Linked DNA regions of Homo sapiens: region 2 is linked to region 1. A link means that fine-mapping ties the variant in region 1 to the expression of a gene that starts in the linked region. Tissue or cell type: whole blood. Region 1 holds a variant in brackets; the other region holds the start of a gene. All regions are shown on one strand. Distances are between the middles of the regions.

Region 1 (5,288 bases):
ACAAATTCTATCCCCCAGAAAGCAAATAAAAAGCTGAACAAAAGAATAAAAATAATCACAAAAAAATTGTACACAAATATTTCTCATGAACACAGATACAAAAAATCTTTAACAAAACATGAGCAAACTGAATCTAGAAACACATAATTGATTTTCAATATTAAACTCAACTTACATTCCTAGGATGCATTTGGTCATAATATACAATTCAACTAATGTAATATACCATATCAGTAGAAAAAAGGACAAACATCACTTTATTATCTCAATAGATGCAGAAAAGAATATTTGGAAAAAAAAACCTTAAAACTATTACCTTCGTGTGTTATAAAATGAATATTTGTATCTCTCCAAATTTCATATATTGAACCCTAATCCCTAACATGAAGGATTTGAATGTGGAGTCTTTAGGGGGTGATTAGATTGTAAAGGGGGAGCCCTTATAAATGGAATTATAGTAGTTCCCTATTTTCTATGGTTTAGCTTTCCACGGTTTCAGTTACCAGCAGTACAACACAATCAGATATTTTTTGAGAGAGACATATTCACCTTATTTTTATTAAATTATATTGTTATTTTATTATTAGTTATTATTAGTTATTGTTAATCTCTTATTGTGCCTAATTTATATATGAAACTTTATTGTAGGTATGTAGGGGGTTAGGAAAATATATCATATATATGGGGTTCAGTACTATCTATGGTTTTAGGCATCTACTAGGGGTCTTGGAACATATTCCCTGTAGATAAGGAGGGACTACTGCAGTGCCCTTCTAAAAGAGACCTCAGAGACTCCCTTGGCCCTCCCACCATGTGAGATTACAGTGAAAAGGCCACCGTCTCTGAATCAGAAAGCAGGCCCTCACCAGATATGAAATCTCTGGCACCTTGATCTTTGATTTCATAGCTCCCAGAACTGTCAGAAAAACATTTCTGTTGTTGATAAGCAACTCAATCAATAGTATTTTGTTATACCAGCCCAAATGAATTAAGGTATCTCATATAATATGCAAAAACTAACTCAAAACTTATCACAAACCTAAATGGAACAGGTAAACTAGAAAGTTTCCAGTAGAAAATATAGAAGAAAATCTTCATGCCTTTGCATTACTGATAGAGTTCTTAGTCACCAAAATCACAATCCATAGAAGAAAAAAACTAACAAATTGGACTTCATCAAAATTTAAAACTTTTATACCTCCTCAAAATTAAAGACACTTGCACTTTATTTTTGAAAATAAAAAAGGAAAGCCAAAAAGTAGAAGAAAATATTTGCAAATCATATATTTGATAAAGGACTTATACCAGGCAACATAGCAAGACCTCATCTCTAATTAAAAAATAAATAAGGCTGACATGGTGGCACACATCTGTAATCCTAGTACTATGGGAGGCCAAGGCGGTTGGATCACTTGGGTCAGGGGTTCGAGACCAGCCTGGCCAATATGGTGAAACCCCATCTCTACTAAAATTACAAAAATTAGCCAGGTGTGGTGGCACATGTCTGTAATCCCAGCTACTCAGGAGTCTGAGACATGAGAATCACTTGAACCTGGGAGGCAGACGTTGGCTTGAGCCAAGACCATGCCATTGCACTCCAGCCTGGGTGACAGAGTGAGACAGTCTCAAAGAAAAAACAAAAAAAGTTTCTACCACTCCGTAGGTTTCCTGTTCACTCTGACAACAGTTTCTTTTGCTGTACAGAAAGCTCTTTAGTTTAATTAGATCCCATTTGTCAATTTTTACTTTTGTTGCAATCGCTTTCGGTGATTTCATCATGAAATCCTTGCCCATGATTATGCCTTGAGTGGTATTGCCTAGATTTTTTTCTAGGGCTTTTTGTTGTTGTTGTTGTTGTTGTTGTTGTTGTTGTTGTTTTCCTTTTTTTGAGACAGGGTCTCACCCTGTTGGCTGACTGGAGTGCAGTGGTGAGATCTTGGCTCACCCCAATCTCTGCTCCCCCAGCTCAAGCAATTCTCCTGTCTCAGCCTCCCAAGTAGCTGGGATTACAAGCGTGCACCACCACGCCCAGCTAATTTTTGTATTTTTAGTAGAGACAGGGTTTTGCCATGTTGGCCAGGGTGGTCTCAAACTCCTGACCTCAGCTGATCGGCCCACCTTGGCCTCCCAAAGTGCTGGCATTACAGGTGAGAGCAACCGCGCCCAGCCTTCTTCTAGGGTTTTTATAGTTTTGGGTTTTGTATTTAAGTCTTTAATCCATCTTGAGTTAATTTTTATATAAGGTGTAAGGAAGGGGTTGAAAATCAGATGGTTGTAGATGTGCAGTCTTATTTCTGAGTTCTCTATTCTGTTTTATTGGTCTATATGTCTGTTTTTGTGCCAGTACCATGCTGTTTCGGTTATTGTAGCCTTGTTGTAGTTTGAAGTCTGGCAGTGTTATGCCTTCAGCTTCTTACTTTTTGCTTAGGATTGTCTTGGCTATAAGAGTTCTTTTTTGGTACCATATGAATTTTAAAATAGTTTCTTCTAAATCTGTGAAGAATGTCAATGGT[C/T]GTTTAATGGGAATAGCATTGAATTTATAAATTACTTTCGGCAGTATGGCTATTTTCACGATATTAATTCTTCTTATCCATGAGCATGGAATGTTCATCTGACAAAGGTCCAATATCCAGAATCTACAAGGAACTTAAAGAAATTTACAAAAAAAAAAAGCCATTAAAAAGTGGGCAAAGGACATAAACAGATATTGCTCAAAAGAAGACATTCATGCAGCCAAGAAACATGAAAAAATGCTCAACATCGCTAATTAGAGAAATGCATATCAAAACCACAATGAGATACCATCTCATGCCAGTCAAAAAGTCAATTATAAAAAAGTCAAAAAATAACAGATGCTGGCGAGGTTGCGGGGAAATAGGAATGCTTTTACACTGTTGGTATGAATATAAATTAGTTCAACCATTGTGGAAGATGATGTGGCAATTCCTCAAAGATCTAGAACCAGAAATACTATTTGATCCACATCCCATTACTGAGCATATACCTAAAGGAGTATAAATCATTCTATTACAAAGATACATGCACGTGTTTGCTCAGTGCAGCACTATTCACAATAGCAAAGAAATGGAATCAACCCAAATGCCTATCAACTGTAGACTGGATAAAGAAAATGTGGTACAGGCTGGGTGCAGTGGCTCATACCTGTAATCCCAACACTTTGAGAGGCCAAGATGGGTAGATCACCTGAGGTCAGGAGTTCAAGGCCAGCCTGGCCAACATGGTGAAACCCCGTCTCTACTAAAAATACAAAAATTAGCCAGGTGCAGTAGCACATGCCTGTAATCCCAGCTACTCAGGGGGCTGAGGTAGGAGAATCACTTGAACCTGGGAGGTGGAGGTTGCAGTGAGCCAAGATCATGCCATTGCACTCCAGCCTGGATGACAGAGTAAGACTCCATCTCAAAAAAAAAAAAAAAGAAAAAGAAAAAAAAGAAAAGAAAAGAAAAGAAAAGAAAAAAAGAAAATGTGGTACATATACACCATGGAATACTATGCAGCCATAAAAAGGATCGAGATCATGTCCTTTCCAGGGACATGGATGGAGCTGGAAGCTGTTATCCTCAGCAAATTAATGCAGGAACAAAAAACTAAACACCACATGTTCTCACATATAAGCTGGAGCAGAACAATGAGAACACATGGACACAGGGAGGGGGACAACACACATTGGGGCCTGTTGGGGGGTAGGGTCAGGGGAGGGAAAGTATCAGGAAATAGCTAATGCATGCTGGGCTTAATACCTAGATGATGTCTTGACAGGTACAGCAAAACGCCATTACACACATCTACCTATGTAATGAACCTGCATATCCTGAACATGTACCCTGGAACTTAAAATACAAATTAAAATTAATTATAAAATAAATAAAACTTTAAAAATTTAAATGCACACTTACTATATGACATAGCAATACCTAGGAATATGTGTAAGAAAAATAAAAACCTGTCACAGAGACATGTAGGTAAATATTCACAGCAGCATTATTCATAATAGCCAAAAACTGGAAATAATTCAAATGTCCATCAATTGGGAAATGGACTTTTTTAAGTGCCATATCCATACAATGGAAGGTTATTCAGCAATAAAAATGATAGCACTACCATACATGCTACAGTGTAAATTAACCTCAAAGAAGAAGTCAGGTGCAAAAAGCATAATTACTCTGTAATTCATTTATATAAAATGTTCAGAAAAAGCAAATTTATAAAAAGAAGAGAAATCAGTATTAGCCTAGAGGTGAATGTGGAAGCAGTGATTAACTATAAATGAGTACAAGAAAACTTTAGAGGTAATGGAGATGTCCTAAAACTGGAATGTGATGATGATAGCTCTGCTGTATAAATTTATTACAAATTATTGAATTGTATACTTATAATAGGTAGACTTTAAGATACATAAATTATACTTCCATAAAGCTGTTAATAACAAAAAACTACATTACATTGGAAGGTATCTGGACATAAACTACTTGATAAGCAAGAAGTCTACTGATTTTAAAGACATCCCCAGAATTTTAAAATTCTGGCCGAATTTTTGGTTTCTCTTTATGTAGTCCCAATCAAGGTAATGGAGAGTTAACTTAGTTTCCCCTATTATGAACCCATCTTAAATGTGGAAGGGAAGAAAAAGAGTGAGTCAGCTCTCACATGACCCAAACTTGTTGCTTCGTCTCTAAAAGTGAGTCATGAAGGCAACTTTTTCCTTGCCTATGAACGTGTTTGAGGAAAAACTATGTGCTTGGTTTAGCATCATTGACCACAATAATTATAGTGCATGAGAATTTATGTTGTATATAAGACTGCTAGATTGGTGGTGGGGGTTTAAGGGACTCAATGCCTGAGGTCTAAGTCTTTAATCCACAAAAAAAAATGCACTTTTTTTTAATGGTCTAAACTAACAATTATGGGTTGTAGAAGTGTTTGTGCTTGTTCAGATGTTCCATGACCAAGAATTTGAAGATGTACATTTTCCAAGTAAATCCAGTACTGAGGAAGAGTGTTAAATTGTCATATTGGAGAGCTGTTTCTATTTTAATGAGTCACATCTCTAGTAAAGACAGGTCTTTCTTGTAAGACAGACCAAGTCTGCTCAGAAGTTAAGAAAGAAGGTATGGTTCACGTTCTTGGAGGGGGAAAAATGTTTTCACTTATGATTTGAACTCCATCACTAAATTATTACTGATGGTCACAGAGCAACTGTTAGACTACATATTGGTCACCAATTTGATTTCACACTAACGGTAATAGCACAAAAGTTCCCAAAGGCT
Region 2 (5,148 bases), 410 kb after region 1:
AGAAATCATCTTTCTACTGTAAACTAGAGACCGAGACCGCTCGTGGGGAGGGAATCTATGTGTTTACACTTTTTTTTTTTTTTTTTTTTTTTTTTGCCCCGGAGCTGCTGCGGGAATTGATTGGCTCCCTTGCGCCCCTGACGCTGGGACTGTCCCCCCGCCGCGCCCCGCCCGCACCCCGCCCGCACCCCGCCCCCTCGCGCGGCCATCTGCTTCGCAGTCTGTCTCCCAGTCTCTCACTCGGCCCCTCTCCCCTCCACCACTCCCAGCCCCCGTCTCCCCCACCGTCACCCCCCAGCGCCGGCTCCGCCTCTTCCCCCTCCCCGGCCCAGTGCTCCGAATCTTCCCCGGCCGTTGCCAGGGAGACCAGCCGATACCAGGCAAATAGGCGTACCAGAAAGAAAAGGGGGGAAAGCTACACGGCAGCCTGGTAACAAAGGAGCAATAAAAGCAGCCCCCAAATGGAGGGCTAAGGACGCGTCTGGGAGAAAATCTGAAAGCGAGCTAGCAGTCACCCCAATTTAAAATAGGAGGGGGATGCGGAGGAAGGGGCATGATTCACGTTGGGGGTGGGGGGAAATCAAGAGCCTTAAATGGGCTTTTGGGAATCGCCTGGATGGTGGTGTCGGATCAGCCCAGTTGGCTTTTCAAGTTGGAACTGCTAATACAAGGGATTTGCGTCCATCCTGGCGGCTGGGGTCGTGGGCCAGGCCAGCGGGCTCTCTTAAGGGTAATAACACGTTTGCTGGCAAGATGCATTTCTACGGAAACGTCTTTACATCAGCTCTGGGGAATATGACCATGGTCGAATAATGCATCTGAAGGAACTGGACAGTGAGAAGACGAAGCTTCACGTAACAATGTTCAGCTTGGTGATTTTTAAAGCAACGCTTGAACAAAGAGTTACTGGCTTGAACCAACCGTCTTTTTCACTCAGAGTGTGACCTATTTCCCTACAATGAGCAGAAAATAAAACTGTTTGAGAATTCAGAGCCAGCACCAGGAGAAATGAACCATTCCCTCGACTGCTTCTCACCTTCATAAGCGAAAGATTATTCCTTGCAAGATCACCAAATGTAAACGAGAAAAGGTGGTCTGATTTTGCCACGAGTGAAAACTTTGGGAAGAAAATGCTTATTAAGCTGTTTCCTTGGTTCCCCTCACCCCTCATACTTTAAGTCAGTGCCTTGTCTCTCACGCACAAAAAGCGTCTGGTACTTCGGTGGCAAGGAGTGCAGTGACAGATGGAGGTATCCTGTGTACCATTATAGAAGGTTTTCCTCTAACCCAAGTTAGACTTGGAGAGCTCAGGGATCTTGCTATCTCTCAACATACAGAACATTTCTCCTTAGAACTGCAATCCGGTTTAGAATGTCATCGTTGCTGCTGCCTCCCTTCCTTTCAGGAGCACATTCGCCTGCGTGCGCACTCACACACACGTTCAAAAAGAGTCCATTCGATTCTGGCAGTAGGCTGAAAACGATCCATATTGACGCGAATAACATCCCAACTGTAAATATGGATTCGTCTACTCGAGGCTGTGTCTCATTTCACCATAGAGGAAAATTATGTCATTTAAAACAGTGATAAAACGCGAAGAGTTTCGATCTTCTGTAAATGGCTCTCACTTTGAATTGTGGGGGAAAAAAATCACTAATTGGGAATAGCCAGAGAAGGGGGAATTTGTTGAGCGCCCAAGGCCAATCTCAAAATATTTTATTTCATGCCAATGTGGGAGAGGGAAGGGAGTGTGGCTTCGCTGTTTGCCGCTTTTGCATTTTCCACATCTGGCCTACAGACCTAATTCTAACTTGCGATCTCGCTTGATGAAATTCGATCTTCGTGGTTTAAATACCTTTCAATTTGGGACGATTTAACCATTGCAGCAGTTCAAAAAACAAACCCTGAGCATTATCTGTAAAACCAATATGGAAAAAAGAAAGAAAACATGCTGCAAACACACAAATCGCAACCATTGTCTTTAACACTCGCATACACACACATACACATAAACACACGGAAAGATGGGGGAGGGGAGCGAGTGGAGAGAGAGAGACACACGGATATAGACCGACGAGAGTCAATGCGAGTCAAGTTAACGCTTTCTCCGCCCCGATGCACAAGTACCCCCCTCCCGTGTTAATTAATTCCAAACAAAGCAAGCCAATCAAGAAATGCATTATTATTTTCAAGCAGAGAGAGACGAGTGCCATGTATTTTTTAATTGATTTATTTATTTGGAGGACATTAATTCTCGGTCTGAGGCTGATTTTCAAACCGTTTGCAAAGCGCGGCTCCATTGTTCGCCAGGCGCGCAGACCCCGCCCCCTGCTTTGTGTGCGGCGCGCGGATTGGCCGACGCGCGCGGGGGCCGCGTCAGCGCCCGCGAGCCCATTCATCTGTGCACTTGGGCGTTGGACCCCGCATCTTATTAGCAACCAGGGAGATTTCTCCATTTTCCTCTTGTCTACAGTGCGGCTACAAATCTGGGATTTTTTTATTACTTCTTTTTTTTTCGAACTACACTTGGGCTCCTTTTTTTGTGCTCGACTTTTCCACCCTTTTTCCCTCCCTCCTGTGCTGCTGCTTTTTGATCTCTTCGACTAAAATTTTTTTATCCGGAGTGTATTTAATCGGTTCTGTTCTGTCCTCTCCACCACCCCCACCCCCCTCCCTCCGGTGTGTGTGCCGCTGCCGCTGTTGCCGCCGCCGCTGCTGCTGCTGCTCGCCCCGTCGTTACACCAACCCGAGGCTCTTTGTTTCCCCTCTTGGATCTGTTGAGTTTCTTTGTTGAAGAAGCCAGCATGGGTGCCCAGTTCTCCAAGACCGCAGCGAAGGGAGAAGCCGCCGCGGAGAGGCCTGGGGAGGCGGCTGTGGCCTCGTCGCCTTCCAAAGCGAACGGACAGGTAAATTCTACCTGTGGTTGTGGTCATTTATTTCGTGTCTTTCTCTCCTTCCCTCCTGGTGGCTCCCAAGGCTCATTCGTGGAGAGGAGTGTGGCTGGATTCTAGTCTGAAAGTTGAATGGAAATGGATAGCCTAAATTGTGGATTTTTCATAGCCGGGGTCCCCCCACACCAAAGGAGTGGTTCCTTAGAATCCTGGAGAATTCTTGAGTAGACGGGAGGAAAGGAGTGATAAATCGTCTAAAATGGCGTGGTTTGGAGATTGGCAGAACGTGACTAGCTAGGTGCCCTCCTTCCCCCGCCCCCAGCCAGGTTTCATTTGTGTTTGGGGGCACAATGGTGTTTGGGTGTCTCTCGGGTTTGTTGTCGAAGCTGGATTGTCTTCGAGATTTCTGAACTGGTGGTGTGATTGTGTGTGGCGGGGGGGGGAGTCGGGAAAGGGGGGCGCAATGGGGATGGTGGTGGAGAAAGGCGAGGAGGGAAAGGCTGTCTTATTGTATGCCGCGGCGGCGTGCCCTGGGTTCTTGGAAAGGTGGCTGGCTGGGGCCAGACAGAGGGCTTCGGTACCTTTTGATGAGGCTTTCCCACTGTCCTAAATCTTTATTCGTAGCTGTCTGTGGAATTACACATCCATTTGATTTTTAAATGGTATCTGTGGGGTGGGAACACTCGGTGGGTCCTTTAAGAACCTTTCCAGATGGTCAAAAAGAGGCGGTTCGTGCCTTTCGGTCGGGATTGTTCTTGTGCGTGGCGCCTCGACCACCCGCGAGGGGCCGCCCGGCGCTGCCCGGACCCAGGCAGATAGCCACGATTGGGTGGACCCGAGAGGTCGGCCATGGGTGGCTGCTTCGCAAACACTGGGCACCCACCACGCCTCTTTTCCTAGAGAAGAGATCGTGTCGCTTCGCCTGCTCTAACCTACTGGGGAAAGCGAGGTCTGCCAAGAGGCTTTAAACCCGTTAAAAATGCAAAATGAGCCGCCGAGGCGCGCCCAGGCTTCGCAGAATCGCAGGGGAAGGTGGGCGTGGAAGCAGAGGCGAGACCTCAGAAATAATGGGTTTCCCCCTGCCTTGTTGGTTTCAGCCCGACCGGCAGGCCAGGAAACCACCTGAGCTTTGTTTGCGGACTGTTGGGCTGCGCGATCCGGGCTCGGGGGCGCCTCGGCCTGCGGGCAGGGCCCGGCTGGGCAGGGCGGGGTGGCCCGGCGACTCCGCCCCTCCTCGCCTGCCTGCGCCCAACGCGGCGCGGTGGAGGCACAGCGCCCCCTGCCGGTGCCAAAGGCCTGGGTGGGCGCAGGAGCTCGGAGGGCCCCGCGCGGGCGCTCCTGGCTCGAGTGCTGTGATCCCCCTGGGAATTCCTGGTATTTTGAAGAGGCCTTTATGTATTTAGGGCGAAAGAGGGATGTGAAACGTAGGCGCGAACCACCAGCTCTGGCTCTGTGCCTTCTTCCAAAGGGCGTTTGCTGTGTCAACTAGTCCCTGGCACCTTTTTTCCCCCAAGCCCCCGATAAAGCGAGGGCTGGCATGGTTAGCCTTTGCTTGCTACGTTTCGGACTTCGTCTTTAGGGCACTTGCTGAATGGCTGGGAGGCCATTGCCGTACTTGGGGGCTACAGTTGTGTTTTCGGGGGGTCTCCAGGCAGCGGTGCCCATTTCCTCGTTCGTGGGGCTCTCTTCTGGGCATCCACCCGCGCCTCCCTCCCCACAACGGCGGGGGTGGGGTCTCGATGGCCACAGGGGCCTTAGGGGGAAGCGGGGCACTCCCGGTCCAGGGCTGGGGGCGGGAATGGCGGCGCCCCGGCCGCTTCAGTGACGCTCCCGCTTTCTCTGCCCCTTAGGAGAATGGCCACGTGAAGGTAAACGGCGACGCTTCGCCCGCGGCCGCCGAGTCGGGCGCCAAGGAGGAGCTGCAGGCCAACGGCAGCGCCCCGGCCGCCGACAAGGAGGAGCCCGCGGCCGCCGGGAGCGGGGCGGCGTCGCCCTCCGCGGCCGAGAAAGGTGAGCCGGCCGCCGCCGCTGCCCCCGAGGCCGGGGCCAGCCCGGTAGAGAAGGAGGCCCCCGCGGAAGGCGAGGCTGCCGAGCCCGGCTCGCCCACGGCCGCGGAGGGAGAGGCCGCGTCGGCCGCCTCCTCGACTTCTTCGCCCAAGGCCGAGGACGGGGCCACGCCCTCGCCCAGCAACGAGACCCCGAAAAAAAAAAAGAAGCGCTTTTCCTTCAAGAAGTCTTTCAAGCTGAGCGGCTTCTC

What was found. PIP is the estimated chance that this variant, and not a neighbour inherited with it, causes the effect.
Region 2: MARCKS starts here. The variant in region 1 is fine-mapped to the expression of MARCKS in whole blood (INTERVAL, PIP 0.95).

The regions. Positions count from the first base shown.
Region 1 is chr6:113,442,566-113,447,853 of GRCh38, forward strand. No RefSeq gene overlaps it. Among named protein-coding and RNA genes, the nearest start is that of LINC02518, 12 kb to the left of the region's middle. The variant C/T (reference allele first, on the strand shown) is at 2,514.
Region 2 is chr6:113,854,942-113,860,089 of GRCh38, forward strand. MARCKS (myristoylated alanine rich protein kinase C substrate) reads left to right here and starts at 2,404. Exons shown (of 2, transcript NM_002356.7): 1 at 2,404-2,906; 2 at 4,742-5,148. The coding sequence starts at 2,805. RefSeq lists silencers at 159-368, 3,951-4,280 and enhancers at 1,159-1,218, 1,239-1,288, 1,559-2,104, 2,105-2,648, 2,436-2,485 and 1 more.